Homo sapiens: one gene and its partners. The protein of the gene in region 2 purifies or fractionates together with the protein of the main gene of each other region. This does not show direct contact. Each region holds a gene or a part of one and is shown on either strand. Other genes may lie near its edges.

Region 1 (4,291 bases), on a different chromosome or scaffold from region 2:
TGAGAGTTCATTATACTCTTCTAAGAATTTTTAAAATTTTCATAAGTAAAAAGCTACCAGGAAAAAACTAAACAAAATCAAAAATCAAAATGAAACTGAAAAGATGCCTGAACTTACAAATTATAAGAGAATGATTAATTAAAATTATACTGAAATGCCCTTTCCCATCCTTCAGACTGGTAAAAAATCCTGCTTCACAACAGGCACTATCATACCCTGTGAAACTCCTGCAACCCTATGGTAGGCCCAAAGATACCGAGGTCCTAATCCCGGAACCTGTGAATGTTACCTTATGCAGCAAAAGGAGCTTTGCAGATTTAAGTATTCTCAGATGGGGACATTATGCTGGATTATTTGAGGGGGCCCAATGTAATCCTAAGTGTCCTCATAAAAGGAAGGCAGAGGCAGATTTGGCCACAGAAACAGAAGAGAAGAATGTGATATGAAGACGAAGCAGAGATCTCGAAATGCCAGGCTGCTGGTTTTGAAGATGGAGAAAGGACCATGAGCCGAGAAATGCAAGCAATACAGCTCCAGAAGATGAGGAAGTGGACTCGCCCCTACAAGGAAGCACAAGCCAGCCAGAATCTTAATTGCAGACGAGTGAAACGGATTCCAGACTTCTGGCCTCCAGAACTGTAAGGGAATAAATGTATGTTATTTTAAGCCACCAATCTGGTGGTAATTTATTACAGCAACCATAGGAAACTATGGAGGGAAACTGGGCAATCCCCAGAAAGATTACACAGGCACCCAACCTCTGACCAGCAATCCCAATTCTAGGACTCCATTCTGCAGATGTACCTGCAGACTATTCATTTATTGTGGCATTGTCTGTAAAAGCCACAAGACTGGACAACTCAACAGTTCGGCAATGGGGGAAATTGAATAAACAATGGTACAACCACCAGATGGAATACTATGCAAGCTTTACTTTACAAAATACTATGCAAGCTTTACTTTACAAAAAAAGACTAAGAAGGGTCTTTGCCTACTGAGATAAAGAAATCACTATGAATATACATTTTAATGAAAACTTGCAAGGTAGTAAGCAGAGTCTATATCAAAAACACCTTTGTTTGGGGATGGGGTGGAGTACGATAAGGATCAAGGCAAGATAGAAGAGCAAAACAGAAATAAGACACTTCTGACCAATAGTTTTAATCTTCAAATCACGTAAATTCATTACCCATTCAGCAAGCAAAGCTAAATTTTTTAAAAAGGAACTAAAAAAAAATTATTTGCAGTAGGTATAACAACTTGTCAATACCCTCAATATAAAAAGAGCACTTACAAATCAAGTAAAAAAGAAAAAAAAACCACTAAAATCCCAAAACAAAATGGGGAAAGGACAATAATAGACAATTCACAAAAGAAATACTACAAAGACATGAAAAAATGTTTTAAAAAACAGTGATCAGAGTAATGCAAATAAAGTCACCAAATGCTATGTTTTATCTACCAAAGTGGCAAAGAATTTAACATGCTGATACATTTGGTATTGTATCACTGTAGATAAAGTGGATGTCCACTGTCATACTTTGAAACCTCTCTCAATCTGTATCAGGAACCTTAAAATTATTGAAATACAGCAAATTCAATTTTATGAATTTATCCTAAAAAACAGGTATAAATAAAAACATATAGAAATAAGTTCCTCCCAATGTTATTTACTTTTTGAGACAGGGTCTCACTCTGTCGTGCACGCTGGAGTGCAGTGGCACGATCTCAGCTCACTGCAACCTCCGCCTCCCGGATTCAAGCAATTCTCCTGTCTCAGCCTCCCAAGTAGCTGAGACTACAGGCACACACCACCATGCCCCGATAATTTTTGTACTTTTAGTAGAGACGGGGTTTCGCCATGCTGGCCAGGCTGGTCTCGAACTCCTGGCCTCAAGTGATCTGCCCGCCTCAGCCTCCCAAAGTGCCACTGTGCCCAGCCCAGTGTTATTTATAAAAGCAAAAACTTTGAAACAAAGTCCAAGAAAAGGAACTAATACAATAAATTTTAAATGATACAATCAACTGCATTTTTACTACATCTTGAAAAATTACTTAGCAACATGCTAAAATGCTCATATATATGTGAATACAAAAAAATAAAATTTAAAACAGTTTAATCTATATTTAGAGAGATCATATGTATTATTTTAAATACACATATACTTATCTATAATGAGAAGGCAAGTAAGAGAATACGTATATTCATAGGGAAAAAGAACTAAAAACTAAACCAAAAAATATGAATTTAGTTTGACGGTAGGCATTACAGATTATTTTTATTTTCTTTATATGGTTCTATATTTTTCAAATTCCACAAAATTAGATGCATTGTGATCAAGAAAATAAAACAAAATTCTATTTTTTAAAGGCCACAATTTGCCCCTTCTTCATTTCTCAAAAACTATATAACCCAGAGGGGACAAAGATCAGAACTCAGCCACATAAATAACAAATAAGCACTGAAGTCAGTTGTATAAACTAAACCCCGTGGTTTACAAAAAGAGGGAGGAGGCTGGCCCTGAAGAGTCCTGAGGAAAAGGGTGGCACAGTAAGAGGTCTGGAGGCCAGGGACGTGACATCAACAAGACATCATCACAAGGGAAGAAGCTTCACATGAGGAGGGTCTGAGCTAGAGCCACAGAGCGGCATGGAGAAGAGGAAAGATGTTTATGAGACAGGAGGGTTTCATGATGAATTGGATGCAGAAAGTCAGGACAAACTCAGAATTACCAAAACATAAGGACTGGACAACTGGGTGGAGGAAGGGGCCATTCAATGACAGAAAAAAGAGAAAGAGGAGTTTGTGTCACTTACTGTGTTTGAGTCTAACATCGCCATTATTCCTAATGCATCTCATCCAGAGTTGAGATCTGCCCACTAGCAATATCTTTTCTTCTAAATAGGTCTATCTGTACTGCAAACATTTTCCTCTCTCCCACCTCTCCATAAGCATCTTAGCAGAATTAGTTAAGTCCACTCAAAGCAAATATACAATATTTCAAAGTCTCTGCTGACAGATAACAAAGCAATCATTATATTTTATATAAATGGCTACTAAGAAATTCATTAAGAAAACCATTTTTTATAGTTTTCAAAGACTTTATTAAATTATCTTTAATCTCACCTCTGTCCACAATGAAGTTCCTCGTCCTAAGGATTCCTCTTGTCTCAGAGACATGAGAAAAGTTGAGACATCAGAAAGTGACACTTTCTCCTGGGCAGGGCAGGAAAGGTTTTAAAAATTACTCGTATTAAAATGTTTAATTGAATAAACTAAAACCACTGTGAAGGCAATCAATTCTACTACTTAAAGTAGGTTATCATTAGCTAAATCAAAAGAAAGCAAATATCATTAGCTAAATCAAAAGAAAGCAAATAAAAAGAAAATATTATTCAACTTTTAACATAAAGATACCATGTTAACTTAAAATTGAGGTTACTATCTTAAAGACAGTCACAATCTTAAAAAAAAAAAAAACACCATTCTATAAGAAGAAATTACTTTCAATCAAAATGTGAGGACAGGCGCGGTGGCTCACGCCTGTAATCCCAGCACATTGGGAGCCCGAGGTGGGTGGATCACCTGAGGTCAGGAGTTCGAGACCAGCCTGGCTAATATGGCAAAACCCCATCTCTACTAAAAATACAAAAATTAGCCAGTTGTGGTGGCAGATGCCTGTAATCCCAGCTACTTGGGAGGCTGAGGCAGGAGAATCACTTGAACCTGGGAGGTGGAGGTTGCAGTGAGCCAAGATCGTGCCATTGCACTCTAGTCTGGGAGACAAGAGCAAAACTCTGTCTCAAAAAAAAAAAGTGATTATTTTCAATGCCATAAAAATGAGCCCCTGACTCAGAAAACCACCTAGGTCTTTCATTCCCTTAAGGTTGTACATCTTGAAATAAGATACCTTGGCTCTATCTAGGCCAGGCATTGGCAAAAACTATTCACAGCCTGTTTTGTAAATAGTTTTTTTGGAATATAGCCAACGCCTGTTTATTTAGTTCAGAAGTTGCAACACAGATCATAAAGCCAGCGGCAAAGCTTTAAAAAAGTTTGCTACCTGGCACTGCACAGAAAGAGTTTGCTGACCCCTGTAGTAAGCAATATTTACTGAGGCTTTGTAAAAAGCACAGGATACACACCATATATATTCCTTGAATGTCGATACAGGGGAAGATGAGGGGAAATGTAGAGAGGGAACAAGGCATACGCTCCAAGAGTCCTCTCCCAGTGGGCCACCCAGGACACACTTAGCTCCCCCAGCAACAAGCTGTGACAACACAGTGA
Region 2 (3,488 bases):
GTCAGGGCCTTAGAGATCCTGCCCCCCCAGATCTCAGCTCCTCCTTCTCCAGGGACGAGAAGGGTCCTTTATAGCACTGCCTAGGGCCCTTTATAGCACATTATCTGAGGGCCCTTTATAGCACTGCCTAGGGCCCTTTATAGCACATTATCTGAGGGACTCTGCAGTCCCTTCCCCAGCACCAAGCCAGGGGCTAAAGCCTGTGGGGACAGACCTGTGGTGTCCCGAGGGGAGAGGAGGGAAAGCAGGTCAGTGTTCTTACTTAGGGCATTGTCCCTCATCCCCTACACTGACCATCTTCCCCCTCACAGGCTCAACACGATCCTGAACTCAGACCGGGTGCTGGTGCTACAAGCGGGGAGAGTGGTAGAGCTGGACTCCCCGGCCACCCTGCGCAACCAGCCCCACTCCCTGTTCCAGCAGCTGCTGCAGAGCAGCCAGCAGGGAGTCCCTGCCTCACTCGGAGGTCCCTGAGCCCAATCCCACACCCTGCAGAGTTCTCCCCTCTCTCTGATCCAGGCCGGGCCTATACAGAGGTGCTGGCTGCTTGTTTACATTCTCCTCTGGGGCTCTACCTCTCCACACTTCCCCAGAAGGGAAAAGGGCACCCTGGATTACTCTTTGGAAATCACTCCTTGGTGGGCAGCATCCTGAGGCTTCCCCAGAACCAGGCCTCTGCTCTGGCCCTCTTGCATCTGGAACGCCAGGTGGGTTTTTCTGGCATAGGAGCCCACTTGCATTTTCATAGTTTTATTTGATAAAATTCCATCTTACATTCTGTGTATTAAAAAAATAATATTTCTGGTGTGAGGCTGAGGTCTCCTCTGTGTGTGTACCCAAGCTGAAGGGTGGTGAGAACGGACCACTCCAGTCTGAGGGGTGGAAGAGGTGAGGAAGGGGGCCAGAAAGCCCCCACCTCCATCACAGTGCTGTGGTCTTTCCAGGCTCAGGGGGCAAGTCACGTGGCAGGGGGAGCCCTGCTGGCAGCATGCTAACCTGACACTCCTGGTCCTGGCACGCTGGAGCATAGTGTGGGGCAGGGTAGCAACAGGGTCCAGGGGGGCAGACACCCCGGCGCCAGGCCCTCAGGGTCAGCAACACAGTAGCCAGAACCAGGGCAGCAGTGAGGGCCCCAAACACCACCAGGGCCACCAAGCTAGGCTCACCTAGCCCAGCCTCTTGCCTCCGCACCACCTCCTTCACTGAGATCCGCAGCAGACCAGCCCCTGCGCTGTGGGGGGCTGGCCCCGTGGCAGGTACCACTACAGCTGAGGTGGGCCCTAGAGGGGTGTCCACTGTGGTTGGGGGGTCTGGGACAGGTAAGACAAGCTCACAGGTCTTGCCACCATAGCCACTGGGGCAGAGGCAGTCGAAGTCGTGGACACGGTCCCGACAGCGGGCCCCTCTCTGGCATGGGCGGCTGGCACAGTCATCCAGGTTGATGGTGCAGAAGCGTCCAGCAAAGCCCTCAGGACAGAGGCAGGAGAAGCGGTTTATGCCGTCAAGGCAGGTGGCACCGTTAGCACAAGGCCGCATCAGGCAGTCATCCACATTTACCTCACAGCGGGCACCCACAAAGCCCACCAAGCAGCGGCACGTGAAGTTGAGAGCAAAGCCCTGGTCGTCCTGGCACTGCCCGCCATTGCGGCATGGGGAGCTGTGGTAGGGGTGAGAGAGGACATGATAACCAACTTACCAACACCTGTAGGGCAGCCCAGGTCAGTATCCTGACCACTGCCCGCCATGTCATCTTGGGCTACACACTCCGAGCCTCAAATACCTCATTTTAAAAATGAGAATAAAAATAGTACCCAGCTTCCCTAATTGTGAGGGTTGAGTGAAATAATCAATGTCAAGCCATTAGCACAGGGCCCAGCCAGAAGGCAGGGCTCAGGGTAAGTGTGCTATTATTATCCTCACAGGCTCCTGGGCCTGATGCAGAAATGAGGACAAGTCCAGCCCTGCAGGCTGTTTCCTCATCCCTACTGTGACACAGAAGGGTGCAAGCCAGCGTTCAGGAGAGGATGAGGAGAGACCCAGGCCCTTCAGTCTCCCCACACCCACCCTCCCCAACCAGAACAGTCACACGTTTGTTACCCCTCTAGCTCCTATAGATTGTTGAAGAAATGGCTCAGAAGGTACAAAAAAAAAAGTTGAGAAACCCTGAACTAGGAACACTTTGGCATGCAGGGGTTTTATCTGAGTGTCCCCGTGTGGGTCTGACTCTCAGTCCCCCACCCTCCCAACAGTCCTGCCTCTTTTCTCATCCCATCACCAGGTTCTGGTCTAACCTTCCACTCACCCTGAGGGCCCAGCACTCACCCTGCCTGTTCACAGGGTCCAGCCTTGCGCTCGCAGTCACGCCCATGGAAGCCTGGTAAGCACACACAATGGTACTCACCGCCCCCGTCATACATGCACTGGCCTCCATTCTGGCAGGGGGACTGCGTGGTACAGATATGTTCATCTGGAGAGGGGACAGGAAAGGCTCTGGGATAACCCCTCCCATCTGGTCCCCAGACCAGACTTGTCCACGCCTTCCAGGCCCCAGGTTCTGTAGGTGTGGCTATACTACAAACCCAGCCCAGGCTGGCGTGGTATGCTAGGGAGAGACAACAACACTGAATTTGGAGTCAGGAGGCTCCTGGCCCTGGCTCTCAGTCTGTCTCAAACTGACCTTGGGCTGGGTACTGTGGCTCATGCCTGTAATCCCAGCACTTTGGAAGACCAAGGTGGGCAGATGACTTGAGGTCAGGAGTTCAAGACCAGCCTGGCCAACATGGCAAAACCCCATCTCTACTAAAAATACAAACATTAGGCCGGTACAGTGGCTCATGCCTATAATTCCAGCACTTTGGGAGGCCAAGGCGGGTGGATCACTTGAGGTCAGGAGTTCGAGACCAGCCTGGCCAACATGGTGAAACCCTATCTCTACTAAAAATACAAAAATTAGCTGAAGTGGCGGGTGCCTGTAATTCCAGCTACTGGGGAGGCTGAGGCACGAGAATCACTTGAACCCAGGAGGCGGAGGTTACAGTGAGCCGAGATCGCACCACTGCACTCCAGCCTGGGTGACAGAGTGAGACTCCATCTCAAAACAAAACAAACAAAAAAACCTGACTTTGAGCAGGTTATAGCTCTTCTGTGGGCCTTAGTTTCCTCATCTGTAAAATGAGTACAATTTTTAGCAGCTGTGTTTCCTGCCCCATGGGGTTATGTTGAGGATCAATTCAGACAACATATAAAAAGTCTAAGATTTAAAAAAATGATAAAATACCATGTATTTGAGGGTTTGACAAGGACAAAATAGGCACTCAATAAATACTGATGGCTGTTCCCCTAAGAACATGGGGTTCCCAACCAAAAGCTACCCTTCCTCCCCCCTACCTTTGTCACAGAACTTGCCTGCCCAGCCACTGTGGCAGATGCACTGCCATGGCTGGTGGCAGGTACCGTGCTGGCAGCCAGGCATCCTCACACAGCGCTCA
Region 3 (4,291 bases), on a different chromosome or scaffold from region 2:
ACTGGGCCTGGTCAACTCCGAGTCTCTTCTTCAGCCTCCTGAACCTGGTGGCATCCCTAGTGAAGTTCACAGGGGCCCGGCACGACAGCTGCTGCTGTGTCGGGGGCAGAAGGGTGGCTGGCTGGGCTCTCCCTTGTCTCCCAGCGCCTGGCCTCAGGCTTCCTCCACCACATGTCTCACTACAGGAATCTCCACCTGGATGTGAGGCCCAGGAAAACCTGCAGGTCCCCAGGACGGGTGGAAGAGGGACGTTCCCCACAATGGCAGTGGCTTTGTTTCCATTTCGGAGGCCAGACCACAGAGCCACAGGAGTACCCAGCCCTCCATCCACACTGCCTGCCTCCACCAAGGGGCCCTTGGATGGGGGCTTCCCCAGCCAGGTAAGAGACTGGCACCCACAGACCACCAACAGTCTTGAAAGTATGTCGAAGGTGTGGCCTCCCAAACTCCCAGTGACAATGATTTGCACAATTTCCTTTTCAGAAGGGCAGGCAGAAACAAACTAGCCCCATCTAGGCCCAACTCTGCCTCTGACACCACCAAATGCAGTGGAGAAAGGTGTGTGGGAGCTGCAGAGACCATCCAAGGCTTCCCCTCAGCCAGCACTGGCCACCCACACAGTTTCTGTCCTGGGTGGACCCGGATTGGCTCCTTGCCTCCAAGTCCGACTGGGAACAAGCTGAGGAAGACACAAACTCCAGGCTAAGTCTTGACTCCCACCACCCGGCTTTGCGAGAGAACCCCCGGGTTTGGACCTCCTGCCCAAGCACATCCCTGCTGAAGAGGAACCCGGCTCAAGGTCACCTTGGGGGACAGACCTTGCCTGGCCATGCAGTCTCTCCAGGCAGGAGAACTGCAACATTTTGGAGCAAAGACAGGCCCGGGGCCCAGAGATTCGGATTCAGCAGGCCTGGGATGGGGCCCAAGGAGTCTGTCTCTTGAACAGAGCTTCTATCCTGGATGGTTCTGTAAACCCCAGGTGAGGACTCCACACTCAGGGGCATCGACGGTCCCAGGACACTGAGCCTGCCGAGTGCCCCACCACAAGCCCTGGCCAGGCCACCCGCCAGCCCACACGCAGAGCTGTGGCCGGGCCACTCACCCGGTTGGCCGTGATGGCTAGGTTCTGGAGGTTCTGCAGGAGGCCGATGTCGGCAGGGAGGAAGGTCAGGTTGTTGTGGCTGAGGTCCAGGTAGCGCAGCTTGCGGCAGTAGAAGAGCTGGGTGGGGATCTTCTCGATCTTGTTGCGGTTCAGGTAGAGGCGCTCCAGGTTGGTGAGGTTGCCGATCTGGATGGGGATGTAGGCGATGTGGTTGTACCACAGCTTAAGGCAGGTGAGGCGGTGCAGGTGCTGGAAGCTGATGATCTCCTCGATGGTCTTGAGGTTGTTGTCCTTGAGGTCAATCTCCTGCAGGTTGTGGAGGCTGAAGATGGAGTGGGGGATGCGCTCCAGGTCACAGCGGATCAGCTCCAGCTCAGTCAGGTTCGCCATCTTCTTGAGGCTGTTGAGGACGATGAGCTTGGTGCCCTCATTGTTGATGGACAGCTTCTGCAGGTGCACGCCCACATCTGTGACCACCTGTGGCAGCTTGCTTAGGTTGCTCTTGAGCCGCAGCACCTTGAGGCGTTTGAGCTCCCGCAGCCCGTCGATGACGATGTAGCGGTTGTTCTCCGCGCTCAGGTTGCCCGTCAGGTGCAGCTCCTCCAGTGTCTTCAGGCTATAGATCCACAGCGGGATCTCCTTGATGTCGGTGAACTTGATGTGCAGCGCCCGCAGGTTCTCACGCAGGAAGGCCAGCGCGGGCGCTTCAATCTTGGCCGCTGTGTGGTAGAGCCACAGCTCCTTGAGGCCCGTGAGCTGGGCAATGCTGGGCGGGATGGTCACGTCGGGGATCAGCTCCAGCTTGAGGACCTCCAGCTCCACCAGGTCAAACACAGTGTCAGGGATGCCACTGAGCATGAACAGGTGCAGCTCCAGCTTGTCCTGCGCGTTCTTGGTGAGCCGCTGCCGGAGCTTGTCCAGCGTCCACTCGTTGTTGAGGTTCAGCTGCCGCAGCTTGTTCTCACTCACCTCCGACAGGAAGACGGCGAAGCGCTTGGAGTAGAGCGGGTCGTATTGGTCAATGAGGTGCAGCATGAAGGCGAAGTCGTTCTTGACGTCGGGGATGTCGCTGTAGCTGCTCTCCTCACGGATCGACTCAAACGAGTACTTCTTGAGGGAGCGCCGTAGCATCCACCACAGTGTATACATGCAGATGAGGCCGTAGAAGATGACTAGGCTGATGTAGAAGGACGCCAGGATCTTGAAGAGTGTGGCCAGGGGGTGGGCACAGCGGTAGGTGCGGTAGCCCGTCAGGCTCTCAATGTCCACGGTGCAGTCCACGTCGAACTTGATGTTGTGCACGTAGTAGACGGTGTAGCAGATGATGAGGATGAACTTGATCACCTTGATGATGGTCTGCCGCATGTAGAGGCGGTACACAATGTCCCCCTCCTCCACATGGGTCCGGAACTTCTTCACCTTCTCAAACAGCGCCTTGGCTTGCTCCCCCTCCTTCTTGTCCAGCACGCCCGTCTCTGAGCGGTCCACGATACCCTGCTCGATCCGTGACTTGGTCCGCTGCAGCATGGGCACGGTGGCCTCCACGTCCTCACTGACGGTCGATGACTTTTTGTCCATGGACCCATTCATCTTGCTGAAGGCCGGCTTGGGGTCGCTCTCCTCCACCACTGTCTCCGACAGGGCCCTCGTGGTCCAGGGCGAGTCGAAGCACTTCAGCAGGATAGACACAAAGTGCTCCAGCTTCGAGCTGGTGCGCGGGAATTTGAACCAGAAGTTGCTGCAGGCCAGGAAGATGAGCGTGTGCAGAAGCACCAGGTAGGGGAAGTACTTGGCAAACCAGTGCAGTCGGTTCTCATAGCACACAGCGTCCACGTAGTTGTACTGGTGCCGGTCCAGGTCATACTTGATGCCTGTGGGGCCCGTGTCAGGGGTCGGCAGAATGGTGGAGTTGGGGTAGGTGGGCTCCGGGCCAGGGGCTGCCCAGCCCCGGAACGAATCATTGCAGGAGTCCTTGGTGACCCACTTACAAGGCAGGCAGATCATCTTGTCTTGGGTGACCTGCAGCGTCCCCCCGAAGACGGCAATCATCAGCATGACGATAGAGATGTAGTCTGTGAACACATCCCACCACGGCTTCAGGATCCGGTATGCTGGCTGCGTGTCCGCAAAGTAGCGGAGCTCTGTCACCGGAATCATGGTTCAACCTAAAAGGGAGCCATAGGAGGGGGGTTAGCACAGGGTGGCCTGGCTTTCCTAGGACCAGGGGTCAGGGGAAGAAGACAATGAAAATTCTTCCATTGTCCAAAATTCCACCTCAAATCTAGCTGGGAGCCAAAGCCTGCCTACTCCACGGGGCAGCCCACTTATCAGCCCTTCTGCAGAAAGCATGTGGCCACTTGGCTGGGAAACCACCCTGGGGGAGGCAGGCAGGCTCCCCATTTAATACACAGGAAGACTGAGCACAGTGAGATTAGACAGATCCCCAGTGCAGCCTCAGGGTTCTCTGCTCCATCCCTTGCATTCCAGTAAGAGCAATCGGGAACTCCTTTCTAAAGTCCACCTATTTAATGAACAGATTGACCAGAGGGACACATTTAAAACTCCCAGTTCACTGGGAACCAGCTGCTGTAAAGCTGCAGCAAAGGGCTGGAGGGATTCCCGCAAAATATGAGGAAAGAAAGCAACATGCAGAGGGGGCACAACATGAACTCACTTCCATAAAACAAAGAGCAAGGTTTAAAAATTCCACGTGGTTCACGTCTGTAATCCCAGCACTTTGGGAGGCCGAGGTGGGTGGATCACCTGAAGTCAGAAGTTCAAGACCAGCCTGGCCAACATGGTGAAACTCGGTCTCTACTAAAAATACAAAAATTAGCCTGGCGTAGTGGCGGGTGCCTGTAATCCCAGCTATTCGGGAGGCTGAGACAGGAGAATCACTTGAACCCGGGAGGTGGAGGTTGCAGTGAGCTGAGATTGTGCCATTGCACTCCAGCCTGGGCGACAAGAGTGAAACTCCAACTCAAAAAAAAAAAAAAAAAAAAAAATTCCACATGGGGGCTGGCATGGTGGCTCACGCCTGTAATCCTAGCCTGTAATCCCAGCATTTTGGGAGGATGAAGTGGGAGGATCGCTTGAGTCCAGGAGGTTGAAGCTGCAGTGAGCTATGACCCCGTCGCTGTACTCCAGCCTGGGTGACAGAGACCCTGCTTCAACAACAAAATTCCACAT
Region 4 (4,291 bases), on a different chromosome or scaffold from region 2:
CCTGGGCAAATAGGAAGACCCTATCTCTATAAAAAATGACAAAAATTAGCCGGGTATGACGGCGTGTGACTATAGTCCCAGCTACTAAGGAGGCTGAGGTGGGAGGATCATTTGAGCCCAGGAGTTCCAGGCTGCAGTGAGCATGAGCCAGGATCACTCCATTGCACTCTAGCCAGGGTGACAGAGCAAGACCCTGTCTCTAAAAACAAACAAAAATTAGGGAACAATTGGCCAGGTGTGGTGGCTCACATCTGTAACCCCAGCACTTTGGGGGGCCGAGGCGGGCGGATCATGAGGTCAGGAGATCGAGACCATCCTGACCAACACGGTGAAACCCCGTCTCTACTAAAAATACAAAAAATTAACCGGTTGTGGTGGCGTGTGCCTGTAGTCCCAGCTACTCGGGAGGCTGAGGCAGGAGAATCGCTTGAACCCGGGAGGCGGAGCTTGCAGTGAGCCGAGATCATGCCACTGCACTCCAGCCTGGGCGACGGTGGGAGACTCTGTCTCGAAAAAAAAAAAAATTAGGAACAATGAATTTTCTTAGGTATGATAATGGAATTGTGATTATGTAGGAGATTATCCTTAGATTTTTAAGACATATGTTGAAATATTTATAGGTAAAGTATCTATGATGTCTATAATTTACTATGAAATAGTTTGAGAAGAACAAACATATATATGCAAATAAGATGCACTATCAACTACTATTCAATCTAGATGGTGAATGTACAGGAATTAGTTGTACTATAATCCTTCCTGCTTTTTCTGTGTGTTTGAAATTTTCATAATAAGAAATTTAAGGCTGGGCATGGTGGCTCACGCCTGTAATCCCAGCACTTTGGGAGGCCGAGGCAGGCGGATCATGAGGTCAGGAGACCATCCTGATTAACACAGTGAAACCCCGTCTCTACTAAAAATACAAAAAAATCAGCCGGGCATGGTGGCGGGCGCCTGTAGTCCCAGCTACTCGGGAGGCTGAGGCAGGAGAATGGCGTCAACCCGGGAGGCAGAGCTTGCAGTGAGCCGAGATTGGGCCACTGCACTCCAGCCTGGGAGACAGAGCGAGACTCTGCCTCAAAAAAAAAAAAAAAAAAAAAAAAAAAAAAAAAATATATATATATATATATATACACACACACACACACACATATATCTCTATAGAGATATATATCTATATATCTCTCTCTCTATATACACATATATATGTATATACGTGTATATATGTATGTATATAGATATATGTGTATATATAGACATATATACATGTATATATATACACACATATATATACACACACATATATATATACACACACACAAAAGAAATTTAAGAGAAAAAAAGGCAGAGATATAGCATATTCATGGATTGGAAGACTGAATATTATGAAAGGATTTATTCTCCCTAATCCACAGATTCAACATAATCCTAGTCAAAAATCCCAGTAGGTTGTTTTTGTGAAAATTGACAAACTCATTCCAAAACTCATATGGAGGTGGCTGGGCATGGTTGCTCATGCCTGTGGTCCCAGCTTCTCAGGAGGCTGAGGCAGGAGGATTGCCTGAGCTCAGGAGTTTGGGGCTGCAGTGAGCCATGATTGTGCCACTGTACTCCAGCCTTTCCAACAGAACAAGACCCTGTCTCAAACAAACAAAAGACACAAAGGGGCTAATCATAAAAGAGCAATTTGATAAACTGCATTATATCAAAATTAAATTTTTTTTTCATTTAAAGGTAATCATTAAGAGAATGAAGAGTTTTTTGGGGCTGGATGATTAAAAAAAAGAATGAGGCCGGGCGCGGTGGCTCAAGCCTGTAATCCCAGCAATTTGGGAGGCTAAGGCAGGCAGATCACCTGAGGTTGGGAGTTCGATACCAGCCTGGCCAACATGGTGAAATCCCATCTTTACTAAAAATACAAAAATTAGCTGGGTGTGGTGGTGGGCGCCTGTAATCCCAGCTACTCAAGAGGCTGAGGCATGAAAATCACTTGAACCAGGGAGGTGGGGGTTACAGTGAGCTGAAATCATGCCACTGCACTCCAGCCTGGGTGACAGAGAGAGACTGTCTCAAAAAAAAAAAAAAAAAAAAAAAAAAAAAAAAGAATGAAGAAGTAACCTTTAGAGCAGGAATGGATAATTACAAGATGTTTACATCTTGTAAACAAAGACAAAGGACTTGTATGAAGAATATGTAAAGGGCTGGGCGCCTTGGCTTAAGCCTGTAATTCCAGCACTTTGGGAGGCCGAGGCAGGTGGATGACCTCAGGTCAAGAGTTCGAGACCAGCCTGGCCAAACTGGTGAAACCTCGTCTATACTAAAAATACAAAAATTAGCCGGGCATGGTGGCGCATGCCTGTAAGTAATCCCAGCTACTTGGGAGGGTGAGGCAGGAGAATCACTTGAACTCAGGAGGCGGAGATTGCAGTGAGCCGAGATTGCGCCACTGCATTCTAGCCTGGGTGACAGAGCAAGACTCCATCTCAAAAAAAAAAAACCAAAAAAAAAAACCATGTAAAGAAATCCTGTAAGTCAGTAAGAAAGTCAGACAACTGAATACAAATACGGACAAAAGACTTAAGTAGGCATCTCATAAAAGAGGCTGTCCAAACAGCCAATAAACACGTGAAAAAGTGCTTATATTCATTAGTCAGCGAGGAAATGCAAATTAAGACCACAATATGCTACTATGACACATGCACTAGAATGGCTAAAATGAAAAAAAATAAAACATACCAAGTGTTGGTAAAAAAGTAGAGCAACTAGAAATCTCATATGACCGCTTTGGACAACTGTTTGGCAACAGCTACCCAAGCTGAACATATGCACGCCCAGAAAACCTGCTCCCAGGCATCTACCCAACAGCAATGTGCATGAGATAATGTGCTCTGAAAGACATGCACAAGGATGTTCACAGCAATAATTCTCATAATAGACAAACTCCAGAACTACCCAAACACCCCAGTAGTAGAATGGATGTTTTTAAAAAGTAGTATATTCACACAGTGGAATTCTATATAGCAATGAGAATCGAACCATCGTCAACTACACACAATAATATTAATGAATCTCATAAACATTGTCTGGCCGGGTGCAGTGGCTTACACCTATAATCCCAGAACTTTGGGAGGCCAAGGCGGGCAGATCACTTGAGGTCAGGAGTTCAAGACCAGCCCGGCCAACATGGTGAAACCCCATCTCTACAAAAATACAAAAATTAGCTGGGCATGGTGGTGTGCACCTGTAATCCCAGCTACTCGGGAGGCTGAGGCAGGAGAATTGCTTGAACCCAGGAGATGGAGGTTGCAGTGAGCTGAAATCACGCCATTGCACTCCAGTCTGGGTGACAGAGCGAGACTCCATCACAAAAAAACAAAACAAAACAAATTGTGTAAAGTGAGGAAGCCAGACATACAGTACAAAATGTTCAAAAATAGGCAAAAGTAATCCATGGTGTTAGAAATTAGGATTGTGTAACCCTTGGAGAGTGACAGTGATTGGAAGGGGGCATGAGGGGGCTCCTGGGATGCCAGTCATATACTGTTTCTTGATCTCAGTGCTGATTACATGTGTACATTCAGTTTGTGAACATTCATCAGACAGAACACTTAAAATTTCTATACCTTTTTTTTTTGAGACGGAATATTGCTCTGTTGCCCAGGCTGGAGTGCAGTGGCATGATGTCGGCTCACTGCAACCTCCGCCTCCCAGGTTCAAGCAATTCTCCTGCCTCAGCCTCCTGAGGAGTTGGGATTACAGGTGTGTGCCACTACGCCCAGATAATTTTTGTATTTTTTTGTAGAGATGGGGTTTCACCATGTTGGCCAGGCTGGTCTCGAACTCCTGATCTGAAGTCATCCACCCACCTCAGCCTCCCAAAGTGCTGGTATTACAGGCATGAACCACCGTACACGGCCACAACTTGTATACTTTTGATAAGCCCATTATACTTCCATAAAAAATAAGAAATAGAGAAAAAAGGAGGCCGGGCACGGTGGCTCACGCCTGTAATCCCAGCACTTTGGGAGGCTGAGACGGGTGGATCACCTTAGGTCAGGAGTTCGAGACCAGCCTGGCCAACCTGGTGAAACCCTCTCTACTAAAAACACAAAAGTTAGCCGGGTGTGGTGGTGCGTGCCTATAATTCCAGCTACTCGGGAGGCTGAGAAAGGAGAATTGCTTGAACTCGGGAGGTGGAGGTTGCAGTGAGCTGAACAGTCGCCATTGCATTCCAGCCTGGGTGATAAGAACGAAACTCCGTCTCAAAAAAAGAAAAAAAAAAAAAAGAAAG
Region 5 (3,500 bases), on a different chromosome or scaffold from region 2:
CAATCACCACCAAAAAGGCTGAGAAGATGGGAAAAGATGTGATTTACCTAAGGTTATGCACCAAATACAAAATTTTGAACAGGAGCAGAAATTCAGGTTTTTAACTCATTATTCTGTTAACTGTAAGTTTGCATAAGTGGCAACTACTATATTACTAAAACGTGCAGCTTTTTATTCCTCTCAGAAATCTCATAGATGTCGTTCATCCTGTAATTGCTCTGATTATGTCCTCAATCCAGGAGAAATGACTTTATGCCACAATGAATACGCAATAAAAAAAGAAAAACTGTGCTGACTTAAGTTACCCAGAACACCTGCCTATTTACAGTTAAGTTTATCAAATTCTGATAAGTGTATGCTAAATTTCTTCATAAAATCATTTTAAAGGAACTTTTATTTCCTGTGGAAGTTTCCGATGTGAAAGAAGACAAGCAGGTGATAGGAGAACATTGTATGGATTAAATAGTTTCTACATTAACAACTGCTTATTTTAAAATTTCAAATATCCTTTCTGGGGGTTGGGGAGAGGGCGTTATTTCACAAAACTATAAATGTGATTTGGTTGAACCTGTTTTTTTGGCGTAGCTGAGAATCCTTTGCCCAAACTTGTGCCCTCACTAAAGGAGGCATATGTTCTTGTTTAGAAACAAAGTAGTACTGATTAGACTATACTTCCTGGTCCTCACCTACTAAGTAAATCTTCAAGTCAAACCTCCTTTACTTAAACATATGACAAGACTAGCCATGCCCCAAATCATAACAAATATATCAAAAATTACCAACTATACTTTATAACTTTGGCATATCAGCTAGACCTTAAAGACATACAATCTAAGTTTTCAGTGGTACAGGTTTAACATAAGCGTAACAGATATCCTTTTCCTGTTACATTAAAACATTTTTGAAAGTACCTTTTCTACTTTATTCTATAATTTTTTTTTTTTTTTTTTGAGGCAGAGTCTCACTCTGTCACCCAGGCTGGAGTGCAGTGGCATGATCTTGGTTCACAGCAAACTCTGCATCCCGGGTTCAATTGATTATCCTGCCTCAGCCTCCTGAGTAGCTGGGACTACAGACGTGTGCCACCATGCCTGGCTAATTTTTGTATTTTTAGTAGAGACAGGGTTTCACAATGTTGGCCAGGCTGGTCTTGAACTCCTGACCTCAGGTGATCCGCCTGCCTTGGCCTCCCAAAGTGCTGTGATTACAGGCGTGAGCCACCACGCCCGGCCCTATGAAAGACTTTTAATCAAAATGGTCATTTACAAATAGAATGGAATTAAACACACAAATTTATCTCCTCCCCTCACATTTAGCTCTGCAACTTACAAGTTTTCTCCTTTGTATTTTAAAACAATTTGTAATAAAAATGTATAAGAAGTTCCCCTCTTACAAAAAAGGAGAAAAGCAAATGGAGTTATCAGGCAATGTTTAGGGAGTAAAGAGACACGCTGAAGCTACAGCTCACAGCAACTGATAAAGACAGGTCCTCTCTGCAATCTGGAAGATGCCTATGAATGCAGGGACCTGAGATCAGATAAAAAGCAATCTCCCATCCCTGTCCACATAGTCTAAGCACAGTCCTGGCATCAATTAAGCTAAAGACAATTGCAGACACAAAGGATAGTTCATTACTTGCCTGAAGTATATTTATTTTGGCTTATTACTTGCTTTGAAAGTTCTGTGTAAATTCTTCCTTAAAGGTGACTGTTAGTTAACTTTAAAAGTCTGGAGTTGGGTGAGTGAATAGGAATAGGACTATATGACTGAGCTTCCTTTCAACATGGTATTCTGATATGCTACTATTCAAGGGTCCTAGTAGTTAAAAAAACAAACAAAAAAATGATTATAAATCTGAAAGTCTGAGGAAGACTAGATTTCTGTACCTTTGTTTCACATCAGATCACTTTGTAAAACGACAGAGGAAAAAAAGAGAAATTATATCATCTTATATTTGCAAATATTTTCATGTTATCTCATTTAATAAAAAAATCAGTTTGCAGATGCACAAATTGAAGAAGCACCAGAGATTAATGTCAAATTTAGAAATACTTTTGTTAGAGAGGAATTAGAGCCAGAGGAAAAAGGAACATGTACTTTGCAAATTAGTGATAGTTAAGATAAAACTAGTTCTTTAGAACTTCTGAGATTGTCAGAATGTCTTCCCAACCCATCCCAAGAACCCCAAGTAACACTTTGCAATTTGCTATTTGTGTTGAAGTCAGAAGACTGGTAATTCACAAAATTACATAAACATATGTAAAATCTAACAGTGAGGTGATGAGACTTTCTTCCCAACTTTCTGCAATGACCATCCCACTTAAATATCAACTAATGTAATGTTTAGCAGAAGAACATGGACAACGAGATTGGTACCAGAAAAACAAGTTTATTTTAGCTAACTTTTAAAGAAAATAAATAGCTTATTCACTCATTCACATGCTTGATATGCAGAGTAAGCACTTAGAATGAAACTTGAAAATTCCATCAAGAGAAAAGTATCAATGAACTGGTGAATCTCGGATTGCTTCTTGAGTATCAAAAGACAACATGCAAAAATAAAGATAATTCCACACCTCCTCCTTTTTAAAAGTTTTGCCAGTACTGCAGTTCTTCACAGCTGTTCATAGTAAACGCTTGGTTAATTCAAATCTGTTCCCCTAATACTCCTTGAAACAAACAGAATTACCGGTCTATTATTACTGAACTAATTAATATTCTCTGGGTTTTTATCTTTTTTTAAGAGCATTTAGAAAAAACTTTTATAAACTGCGTATTTATCTCCTGTTGACTATCAACTTATTCAAGGTTTCTCAAACATTCCACACTATCTTAAGTCCACACTACAAGGCAGACCCCAAAACTGGGCTCTATCTCTTCCTAGGCAATTCTGTTTGGTGATCATGTATGCTCTTCAAGCCAAAATTCCTGTTTTCACTGCAATTTATGAGAAAGAAATGATCCTCCTGTTTGCTAAGTGGATCTTCTCTAACTACCTTCACCTCATCACCTGTTCCTTTCATTTTCCTTTTCTTTTTTTTTTTGAGACGGAGTTTCGCTCTTGTTGCCCAGGCTGGAGTGCAGTGTCACGATCTCAGCTCACTGCAACCTCCGCCTCCCAGGTTCAAGTGATTCTCCTGCCTCAGCCTCCCGAGTAGCTCGGATTACAGGCACCCGCCACCATGCCTGGCTAATTTTTTGTATTTTTAGTAGAGATGGGGTTTCATCATGTTGGCCAGGCCGGTCTCAAACTCCTGACCTCAGGTGATCCACCCGCCTTGGCCTCCCAAAGTGCTGGGATAACAGGCTGAGCCAATGCGCCCAGCCCCTTTCATTTTCATTCTATCTACACAGGCTCCCTCTTTTCAGTACATAAGTAAGTTCGGAGGTTCCTTCTCCTAAAAATTACCTCATCAGTGAGGAAAGGAGGGATTGGGGCAGAAGGGCCTGAATCTTTAACCTCTTGCAATTTGAGTATTGTCTCTGCTGCTTCATTTAAA
Region 6 (4,291 bases), on a different chromosome or scaffold from region 2:
AAGGACTAACAGCAGCTACCTGACCCAGGATTAGCCAGTCATATTTTTTCCAGAATTTGTAATTGGAACAATTGAGATGGTAGTCTTCTGCTGGTAGTTTGAAGAGAGGATATGTAAACTTGGTAGCTGTGTACTTAGAAGCAGAGAAAGCCTGTTTTCAGAGAGAAGAATGAAGCAGGTAAGTCATCTGGAAGGACAAGCAGAAGCACAATTTTGGGAACAGTTGCTTTCAGAGTCCTGATGGCATTCCAGCCCCTTGTCCTAGTGCCAGTTCAGGCCCAAGTGTTTGGCCTTTGGGACCTATGATACAGATATCCTATTTCCTTTTAATTAATTGCCTCTTAAAATTACTATTATTAAGCTAGCTTGCAAGGGTTTCTGTTACGTGGAATCAAGGAACCTCAGTAGAGAGGAAAATGAAGCACTTTGTGGTGGTGCTGCACAGGGTATCATTTTGCAGGGTATATACTGTGTGTTTTCTACGTTGACTGGAGTCTGGGGTCAGGTGTAAGAAGTGTTACATAAACATTGGGTTCAAATGAGTCAGAATAAAGTCAACTAAAAAAATAAAAAAGACATACATGGACTTCAGAACAAATGTTTATTACTGCTTAATGGGGCCAAAGGGGCAACACAAAGCATTGAAAACATCACTGGCTCACAAAAACAGTCACCTTGTTACCTTCTCAGTTGCATTTGTTTATTTCACAAGGCTTCATTCACACATAAAAACAAGATACTAATCCAATTCAAGTTCATAACGATTATAAAAGTAAACATTTGTTGGGACAATGTACAATAAATTGCACTTTTTAGACAAGCATTACATTTACATTTATAGAGTGTACTATACATAATACATGGAATTACGGAAACGTCTAATTGGTCATTGTTTATAGAGGAAGAGGCTGATCACTAACGTTTATTTTGTAGTTAATTAGTACTGTTCAGACTAATCAACTCCTTTATTCTAGAACCTGTTTTCATTAGAGATGCCATGGACAAAATAATGGAATTCATAAAAATAGACAATTCCAGAATCTCTACTACCTCCTCTGCAAGGGAAAGGTAGGAGTTAGAAAGAAAGGAAGTGGGGCTGACTGAGAAACTTTGTCCCTCATTTGAACTAAGGATCCATGCATTATGCAAAATACCAAAAATAGAGAAACTGATACAAAAGGCTTTTGGGACATCTTGGATCTGGGACCATCTCCAGCCTTATTCTTGTGCTTTCATGACACCAGAGTCTTTCGATGCATTTATATTCTCACAATTCAGTCCATATATTTTATCCCATATATAATATATAGTTATTAAAAGTTATACAGTTTAATGGAAAAGATTTTACATGTTAACTAATTGCCAATGAAAAAGGAAAATAACTTAAAATGTTCACTTTCTACTCAATGATTCTTTTTTCTTAAGCTTTTCAGAATACCACTAATGACAAACCAGAGATGGAGGTAGGAAGAATGGGATATATTAATGAAATGTTTTTATAGCAGGCAGCAAATTCAGGTGGAGATAAGCTTGACATATGTAGTCTTTTAGATGCAAACTGAGAAAGGAATGCCAGACAGCTGACTGCAGTCACTAAAATCTCCTATATGCCCACTTTTCTCATTACAACTCAAGATCAGCATCTCCTATTGAGGTGCAGCCAAGGTTGAAGTCCTCATTTTGGTCACTTTTGAAAGATAAAGAATTTGCTAAGGTAAAGGGCTTTGCCTGTATTAAATGGAAGCCATTATGAGAGAGGAAGAATGTGTTGGGACAGTTCTAGTTCAGTGTGACTATCAGCATGGCGACGAGAAAGAGTTTTATATCTGGTTGTAGGAAACAGGCTGCAGAGCTGTGGTCTGGCCTTCTGGCTTTCATCATCATTTCTTGAAATCTCAATGTGTATTTGGTTGTGTGGTACCCAGGTAAACAAAAGCAGCAGAGATACTCTATATAAAATTCTTCCAATTAAACACACATACAAACCTAATAGTGTTCAAATCATACAACAGAATTTCTTCACACTCATTTGTAATTGGAGAAAAGGAGTCAGTATTTTGGAGTGTTTTTAAGGGCAAGTTATATAATATAATCATCTTGCTAATCAAGTAAAAGTGTTCTTTCCCAGAAGATAAAACAAAACCAAGGCATTTAATTTTTTAAAAGTTTTTTCCCTTAAAGGGGCCCCCCTAATCAGGCAGGTACCTAAGTGTTTGATGCAAAGGTTGGTGGGAGAGTTAGTAGACAGATTTTAGTGAAAGTATGAAGACTTAAACCCCTACATCAGTTACACATGTGATTCTCCTGGGTGACTGGCTCACTCCTTTAAAGATGTAACTCTATCTCCTCTGCCCAAATCTGTATTGTTTTCCGTTGGTTTTCTCACTTCAGCTAGGAAATAAAGCAACTAGTTATTAACTGGAAAATATTTTAAGAAAATGGAGCAGGGGTTGGAGAAAAATAAATATTAATACATCATAGGAAAAAAATGAAACAAGATACATACTATTAAATATCCCCACATCCATACAAAGGTTGCTTTTCTACTTTACTCAGGACATTTCAGAAAGCCAATGAAGAAGTACTAATTTAACAGCTGGGAGAGGGGCAGAAGACACTGGTTGAATGGCATTCCTATTAGTGTTCCTGATAGGCACTCATAAATAAACAGAACATTAAGTAACAGAATTTCTTTGCATTAAATTATATGTAACTAAATAAAACCAAATTTTGACATGGTTCAGGATGTGGGAAGCTAGCAAACATATGCACTGCAAAATCCAGCTTGGTTTCTTTCAGATTTAAAGACGTGTTTAGATTCTCAAGATACAAAAGCTGATGAACTGAATTATGAAGTTGAATTTCATTCATTTAATTTTTTCCACAGAATTTAATGAAAATAGAAATGATCAATTCTTAGATACTGCAAATATTAGATTTTCAGAGGAATGTTTTGTACAGAGTGCATCCTAGCAAAGGATGAAAAACACTAGAATGTTTTGAAACTTTCCTGGATATTTGGCTGGTTAATCTCTTCTAAGTGAAATTCAAGAGAAGAGATGCAATTCTCAAATATATCTCAAAATAACTAAAATTAAAACTAGGAGTTACTTCATGCTGGGATGCATGAGTTTTCCAACAATAGACAGTGAAGGACATATTGTTTGGAATATTGCTATTATAACATATTGTATGAACAATCATATCACATACCAAATTCTGAATTTTCTTTGTTTCTAGTCTTTACTATTGCTACTGACTCAAAGGCATTGCAGTGAAGGAGAGTTTAGGCTTATGGTACCAACAGGCATACCCAAGTATGATATGGGGCTGGAGAATAAAAAAAAAAAAAATATGTATTGCCCTCGTAATCTTTTGAAAGAGCTAAAAGAAAACTCAAAAGATGGACTTATCAAACTTGAGAGGTATGTACCTGGTGATTTTTCGAGACGGAATTTTGCTCTTGTCGCCCAGGCTGGATGGAATGTAATGCCGTAATCTTGGCCCACTGCAACCTCTGCCTCCTGGGTTCAAGTGATTCTCCTGCCTCAACCTCCCGAGTAGCTGGGATTACAGGCACCCGCCACCAAGCCCGGCTAATTTTTGTATTTTGCAGTAGAGATAGGGTTTCACCATGTTGGCCAGGCTGGTCTCAAACTCCTGACCTTAGGTGATCCACCCACCTCAGCCTCCCAAAGTGCTGGGATTACAGATGTGAGCCACCATGCCTGGCCAGGGGGGATTTTTCTCTTCTCCTCTTTAAAAGGAAAGGGACTATGAAGTTGAACAAGGTCTTTAGATAAGGGATTGACCTAGAGCCATTATGTTTCTCCCTCACCTACTATTATTTAAAGAAAATTACACACTTTAGGCATTCTGTGGAATGTACTTATTTTTGTAAATTGAAACAAGCTCTGTACAGAACTATGAAATTCACAACACAAAAGAGCATCTTTAATTTAGCTGGCCATTTGATAAGGCAACTGCACAAGGCTTCTTGGAATCAAAGCGTAAAGTACCAGTAAAGCTAACAGCCTATACTAAATGATTTACAAAAACAAGCGCCAAGATAACATTTTCTAGCTATTACATTTTACAAAAAAAAAAAAAAAAAAATTAGCTTATCTAGACCACCATGTAGAGAATGTTAAAGCCAACACAGACACTTGGAATGCTGGGTTATGTTCCTTTTTGTTAAGAAAATAAATTTTGTAATGAAAGATGTCAGAACAACAATGAAAGATTTATGTAAGAAAAGTATTATCTGATGAGTATAACATAACAATCACAT
Region 7 (4,291 bases), on a different chromosome or scaffold from region 2:
GTGGTGACACATGCCTATAGTCTTAGCTACTCGGTAGGGTGAGGTGAAAGGATCACCTGAGCCCAGGAGTTTGAGGCTACAGTTAGCTCTGGTTGTACCACTGAGCTCTAACCTGGGTGGCAGAGTACAACTGTCTTAAAAAAAAAAAAAAGCCAGCCAAAAATGTCAATGGTGCCAGAGTTAAGAAACTGAACCAGAGCAACCACAGTCCCGAAAGTACCCTTGTCCCTGCCCAAATGCATGTCCTGACCTGAACTCTGGAAATTCAGTAACTCTACCCCCAACCCTCCTGGCCATTCCTCTTCCCTAAGAGTTAGGGACAGAAAACTGCCAGCCATGGGCAGGAGGAGGTGGTCAGCAGAGTGGCCTAGGAGAGACTCTCTGTTCCATGGGGAGCTCCTGGAAGGCTGCGGCAGAAGGGACAGTTGACCAGGGCAAGCAGCCAGCAAGGGCAGGCTGAGCCATGAGGGATCGGCCCATTTCCCAGCCCCCAGGCAGCCAGCCCTTAACTGCTTCTTTGTGACAGCCCGCCTCAGTGAGACAAGGGGCTCATATAACTCCCATAGCCTGGGAAAGCTTTTTAAATGTAAGCCTATGAGTGAGACTCTATGTGACAGTTTTTGTTTATCTCCAAATCCGGCCCTGATGAATCACTGTCATCTACATTTCAGCATGCTAAGAAACCTAATCCATATAAAACACCCCATGCTTCTGGGGCCCATACTAGTAGACATGACTAAGTGCAAAAATGCCAGTGTTTCACCCTGTGCTGCAGGAGGCAAGAGCCAGGCAGGAGCACAGTGCCACCTGCTTAGAGCAGGGAACCCTAGAAAGGTGGGGGCCCATCAGGGAAGATGGATTAGTGTCTTGAGCCCCTTTTATTTCCATGGTTTACAATAGAGAAAGGTGGGAGAGGCTTTCTGGACTGGGCAGGTAATCTGAAGACAGCTTTCCTGCCAACTCCATACTGGGTTCATCATGAAGATCAAGCACAGGGCCAAGGTAAAGGAATCTTCACACTGTTAAGAGAACAAGGTCAAGTTCCACTCTAAGGACAGGAGTGATCACTGGTGAGCACACATCAATGAATTCAATGTAATTCTCCATAGAGGAGAGTTCCCCGCCAGGCCCAGCCTATCCCAGACCCATTCAGGGGGGTTTGCATATGGAAGTACCAAGACATCCCTCCTCCTTAAAAACACCTCACCCATAAGGCAGTCTAGAGGCAAGGCCACAAGATTACAATGGTGGAACCAGAACTCTCAACAGTAACAGTGAATCAAGACTTACTCAGAGGGAAAAGGGATTGTTCCCATCATGGAAGTGGGGCTAGGCCTCCTTCTATCCAAGTGGCACATTTGCAGGGGTGACAATCAGCATGTTCACTATGGCACAGGCACAGAAGTGGGTCCAAGAGGCCCCTCAAGTGTCAGGATTCAACCCTTTGATTGCTGAACATGGGAAAGAGATCCCAAGGAAAGACCAGGGCAGCTAGGAACCGGAGGGCACTCAGGGGGTCTCAAGGCAGAGCATATTTAACAACCAGCATGGAAGTGCCCCACTGTTACATGTGAGTGGCATGGCTAAGCCAGTGTGTTTCCATCTGGATATCCACTGACTTGTACGGCTCAGCATCACCCATGCAGAGCTTCCAGAAGAGGCTTCACAAGGACAAAAGCACAAAAACCAACAGGGAGCATAGACTTGGCCAGGTTTGTGTGTTTTCTCATCACGTGAATTCTGCTGGGCACTCCAGGAGACTTCACAGGCTTTTCCCAGGAATACCTAGCTTCCCTTCCTGGGATCTCAGCCAGAGCCTCACAGTCGACTCCTGCTTACACCTGTGTCTCTGTCCCAGGCAGCCTCACCGCACCCCCCGCCACCCCCGCCCCACCACACCTGCTTTCACTAAGCCCACTGCCTCTGGACTTGCTAGAAGTTAGGCAGGACAGTGGCCTTGCCTGCTTTGACACTAAAATCAGTATCTTCCCAAACTGACTTCCCTCTCCCCAAAGCCCTAAGAAACATGAGCAGTAGCAAGAAGAAATTATGTCTTCCCCAACCCAATCTCCCCCACCCCCTCTCCCATCATTTTTCTGACCACCTCTTCCTCTGTTCCAAACAGGAGACCAACCACTCACCCATCATTCATCCAAACAGGAGCTAGGGTGGGGAAACTGACAGCGGGTCTGAAGACTCATAAAACCTTCACCAGCCTCCCAGGTGTCCCCCACCCCAAGGTCCAACAGAGCCTGGGCAAGCTGACCCCACTCAGTGCTGGGTAAAGCAGTTGCTTTTTCATTTTTGCTCAAGGGTCTAGGGAAGAGCTCGTTACTTTTGCACTGTTCAGCAGTCACACAATCTGTTTCCATTATGTTTGCTGACCCAGAGGCAGCCACAGCTTCACTCCAGAATTGGGAAACTTTATTTTCTTTAAAGAGAGAAGTTTATGTTACAGTGCCACTGTCGGATTATCTGGCTATACAGTGGTTTTCCCTGCTACTGTCCTCCCTGTGTCAACTTCAAACTCTCATTTGAAGTGGACTTTCTTTAAACTCCAAACTGATGATAGGTGGCAAGGAGTGGTATGGGTGTTCCCCTCCGCATCCACCAAGATGCTCACAGATTTTTGGCACCCATTAAACCACGTGAGGGCCCCATGCTCCACCTCAAGTCATGCATGCTTCCAGGGATCACAGCGACCTGCCCTTCTAACAAGAGGGGCAGGGCTACAGAGGGAGAGCAGTGGAGCTCAGAACCTGGGATCCCACCACAGGAACCCCTCGTTCAGGGACACGTCTGTCCACTGTTGGACACTACAACTGCCTAACCGCCAAGGCAAGCTGCACCCTCCACCCACATTCCCGATGGCTGCCCACTACTGGGATCCCCATTCTGACACCACAATTGGGTACAAGAGAGCTGGCATGGTGTCTGGACAACTTCCCAAAAAGTCCGTCTCTAACAGCATTTAAGATTCATAGCCCAAACCCCAAATGAACCAGTCAGATCAATCTCAGAGGTGGGGGTAACGGATAAAAAAAAGAAAGACGACTATTTTCCAGAAATCAAGAATTGTATCAGGAATACCGTGAACTTAAGATTCCTGGTTCACTACACTTTCAAGGGGATATTTAGGCTTTTATTTTTTCATTTTCCTCTTTTAGAGATAGCAGTTATTCAGCACCCACTAACAGTATTTAACTCTCCGAACAAGGCCATGAGGTAAGAATGATTACTCCCACTGCAAAGATGAGGAAACTGAGGGTCAGAGAGGTTCAATGCATCAGTGAAGGTCACTAAGCACAAAGAGGTAAACAGCTAGGTCTCACTCAATGCCAATAAGTGGATTTGTGCCATTTCCCTTTAATGTCTACTACTAGCTCAAAAACATTACTAGTTCCCAAATGGTTCAGCTTGGCATTTGAAGCCCGTTACAATTTAGTTCTGAATTTCTCCAACTTTACACCCTAACGTTCCCCTCCATGTGTACCATGGTCTAGCCCGGCAAGGTCCTTCACTGTTCCAAGAAATAACCTGCCCGCCTCCCCGCATGATTCCTAGAAGATCCCACCCAAAGTCCCCCACCCTTGGACTCTCGGGCAAGGGCCACAGGACTCGTGCCAGCTCAGGGAATAAGGGTGATGCTACTGTGCAAAGTGGACAGGCTCCCAGGGCTCCGGATCATGTCCCTCAACTAACACCGTCCCTTACCTCCCAGCATGCAGGCACACAGGCAAGGGGTCTCAGGCTCCACACACTCTTACAGCAGAGAGAAAACCCTTCCCTTTCCACCCTAAACAGCCACACTTCACCCACAGGCAGCTTCATTTCCAGAGAAATCCCTTCCTCTCTTCTGCGGCTCCATCCACTGCCAACGTACCAAAGCCCAGGGGAGACTTAACATGGTTAAAATTTTAAAGCATTTAAGAAGCTCAAAGGAAAGGCACGCTTGAAGTGCAAATCATCAATTTAGGGGGAAAGAGCAAAATATGGGGGGAAAGGGTATGGACACAAATGTAAATGAAACATAATTTTAAACAATATTTTGAATAAACTGCTTTAACATACATGTCCTGAGCCTGGGTGTTGAGTCCCGAGTTGTGCGGCAGTGCCTGAGATTGGTCTTCAGCACTCCCTCCTGCTTAGTTTACTAAACCTGCAATCTGAGGTGAGCTGGCTCTCTGGGTTTTGCCAAGTGGAGAATAACAGTTCTGTGATGAGTTACTTAACAGGCAGGGCACACAATGACAAGCCTGGGCTGGGCTGCTGAAGCAGCAGAAATCCTAGT

Evidence for each region.
Region 1: the proteins of DLK2 (region 2) and TARBP1 purify together in Homo sapiens (affinity purification with mass spectrometry; 2 studies listed by BioGRID and IntAct, with this or other methods). This does not show direct contact.
Region 3: the proteins of DLK2 (region 2) and LRRC8A purify together in Homo sapiens (affinity purification with mass spectrometry; 2 studies listed by BioGRID and IntAct, with this or other methods). This does not show direct contact.
Region 4: the proteins of DLK2 (region 2) and ZDHHC18 purify together in Homo sapiens (affinity purification with mass spectrometry; 2 studies listed by BioGRID and IntAct, with this or other methods). This does not show direct contact.
Region 5: the proteins of DLK2 (region 2) and EIF2AK3 purify together in Homo sapiens (affinity purification with mass spectrometry; 2 studies listed by BioGRID and IntAct, with this or other methods). This does not show direct contact.
Region 6: the proteins of DLK2 (region 2) and RABGAP1L purify together in Homo sapiens (affinity purification with mass spectrometry; 2 studies listed by BioGRID and IntAct, with this or other methods). This does not show direct contact.
Region 7: the proteins of DLK2 (region 2) and GALNT2 purify together in Homo sapiens (affinity purification with mass spectrometry; one large-scale study listed by BioGRID and IntAct). This does not show direct contact.

What each region holds. Positions count from the first base shown.
Region 1 is NC_000001.11:234,454,540-234,458,830, forward strand, and holds part of TARBP1 (tRNA (guanosine(18)-2'-O)-methyltransferase TARBP1), read right to left. Parts: intron 3,218-4,291; coding exon 3,128-3,217; intron 1-3,127.
Region 2 is NC_000006.12:43,449,618-43,453,105, forward strand, and holds the end of DLK2 (protein delta homolog 2 isoform a precursor), read right to left. Parts: coding exon 3,388-3,488; intron 2,468-3,387; coding exon 2,323-2,467; exon of another isoform or gene 2,279-2,322; intron 1,658-2,278; coding exon 922-1,657; 3' UTR 735-921; downstream 1-734. Other genes in the region: ABCC10 (ATP-binding cassette sub-family C member 10), read left to right, coding at 312-474. UniProt on the Homo sapiens protein: Regulates adipogenesis.
Region 3 is NC_000009.12:128,906,133-128,910,423, reverse strand, and holds part of LRRC8A (volume-regulated anion channel subunit LRRC8A), read right to left. Parts: intron 3,268-4,291; 5' UTR 3,260-3,267; coding exon 1,103-3,259; exon of another isoform or gene 484-1,102; intron 381-483; exon of another isoform or gene 1-380. UniProt on the Homo sapiens protein: Essential component of the volume-regulated anion channel (VRAC, also named VSOAC channel), an anion channel required to maintain a constant cell volume in response to extracellular or intracellular osmotic changes.
Region 4 is NC_000001.11:26,843,133-26,847,423, reverse strand, and holds part of ZDHHC18 (palmitoyltransferase ZDHHC18), read right to left. Parts: intron 1-4,291. UniProt on the Homo sapiens protein: Palmitoyltransferase that catalyzes the addition of palmitate onto various protein substrates, such as CGAS, HRAS and LCK. Acts as a negative regulator of the cGAS-STING pathway be mediating palmitoylation and inactivation of CGAS.
Region 5 is NC_000002.12:88,620,965-88,624,464, forward strand, and holds part of EIF2AK3 (eukaryotic translation initiation factor 2-alpha kinase 3 isoform 1 precursor), read right to left. Parts: intron 1-3,500. UniProt on the Homo sapiens protein: Metabolic-stress sensing protein kinase that phosphorylates the alpha subunit of eukaryotic translation initiation factor 2 (EIF2S1/eIF-2-alpha) in response to various stress, such as unfolded protein response (UPR).
Region 6 is NC_000001.11:174,991,600-174,995,890, reverse strand, and holds the end of RABGAP1L (rab GTPase-activating protein 1-like), read right to left. Parts: 3' UTR 583-4,291; downstream 1-582. UniProt on the Homo sapiens protein: GTP-hydrolysis activating protein (GAP) for small GTPase RAB22A, converting active RAB22A-GTP to the inactive form RAB22A-GDP. Plays a role in endocytosis and intracellular protein transport.
Region 7 is NC_000001.11:230,069,959-230,074,249, reverse strand, and holds part of GALNT2 (polypeptide N-acetylgalactosaminyltransferase 2 precursor), read right to left. Parts: intron 1-4,291. UniProt on the Homo sapiens protein: Catalyzes the initial reaction in O-linked oligosaccharide biosynthesis, the transfer of an N-acetyl-D-galactosamine residue to a serine or threonine residue on the protein receptor.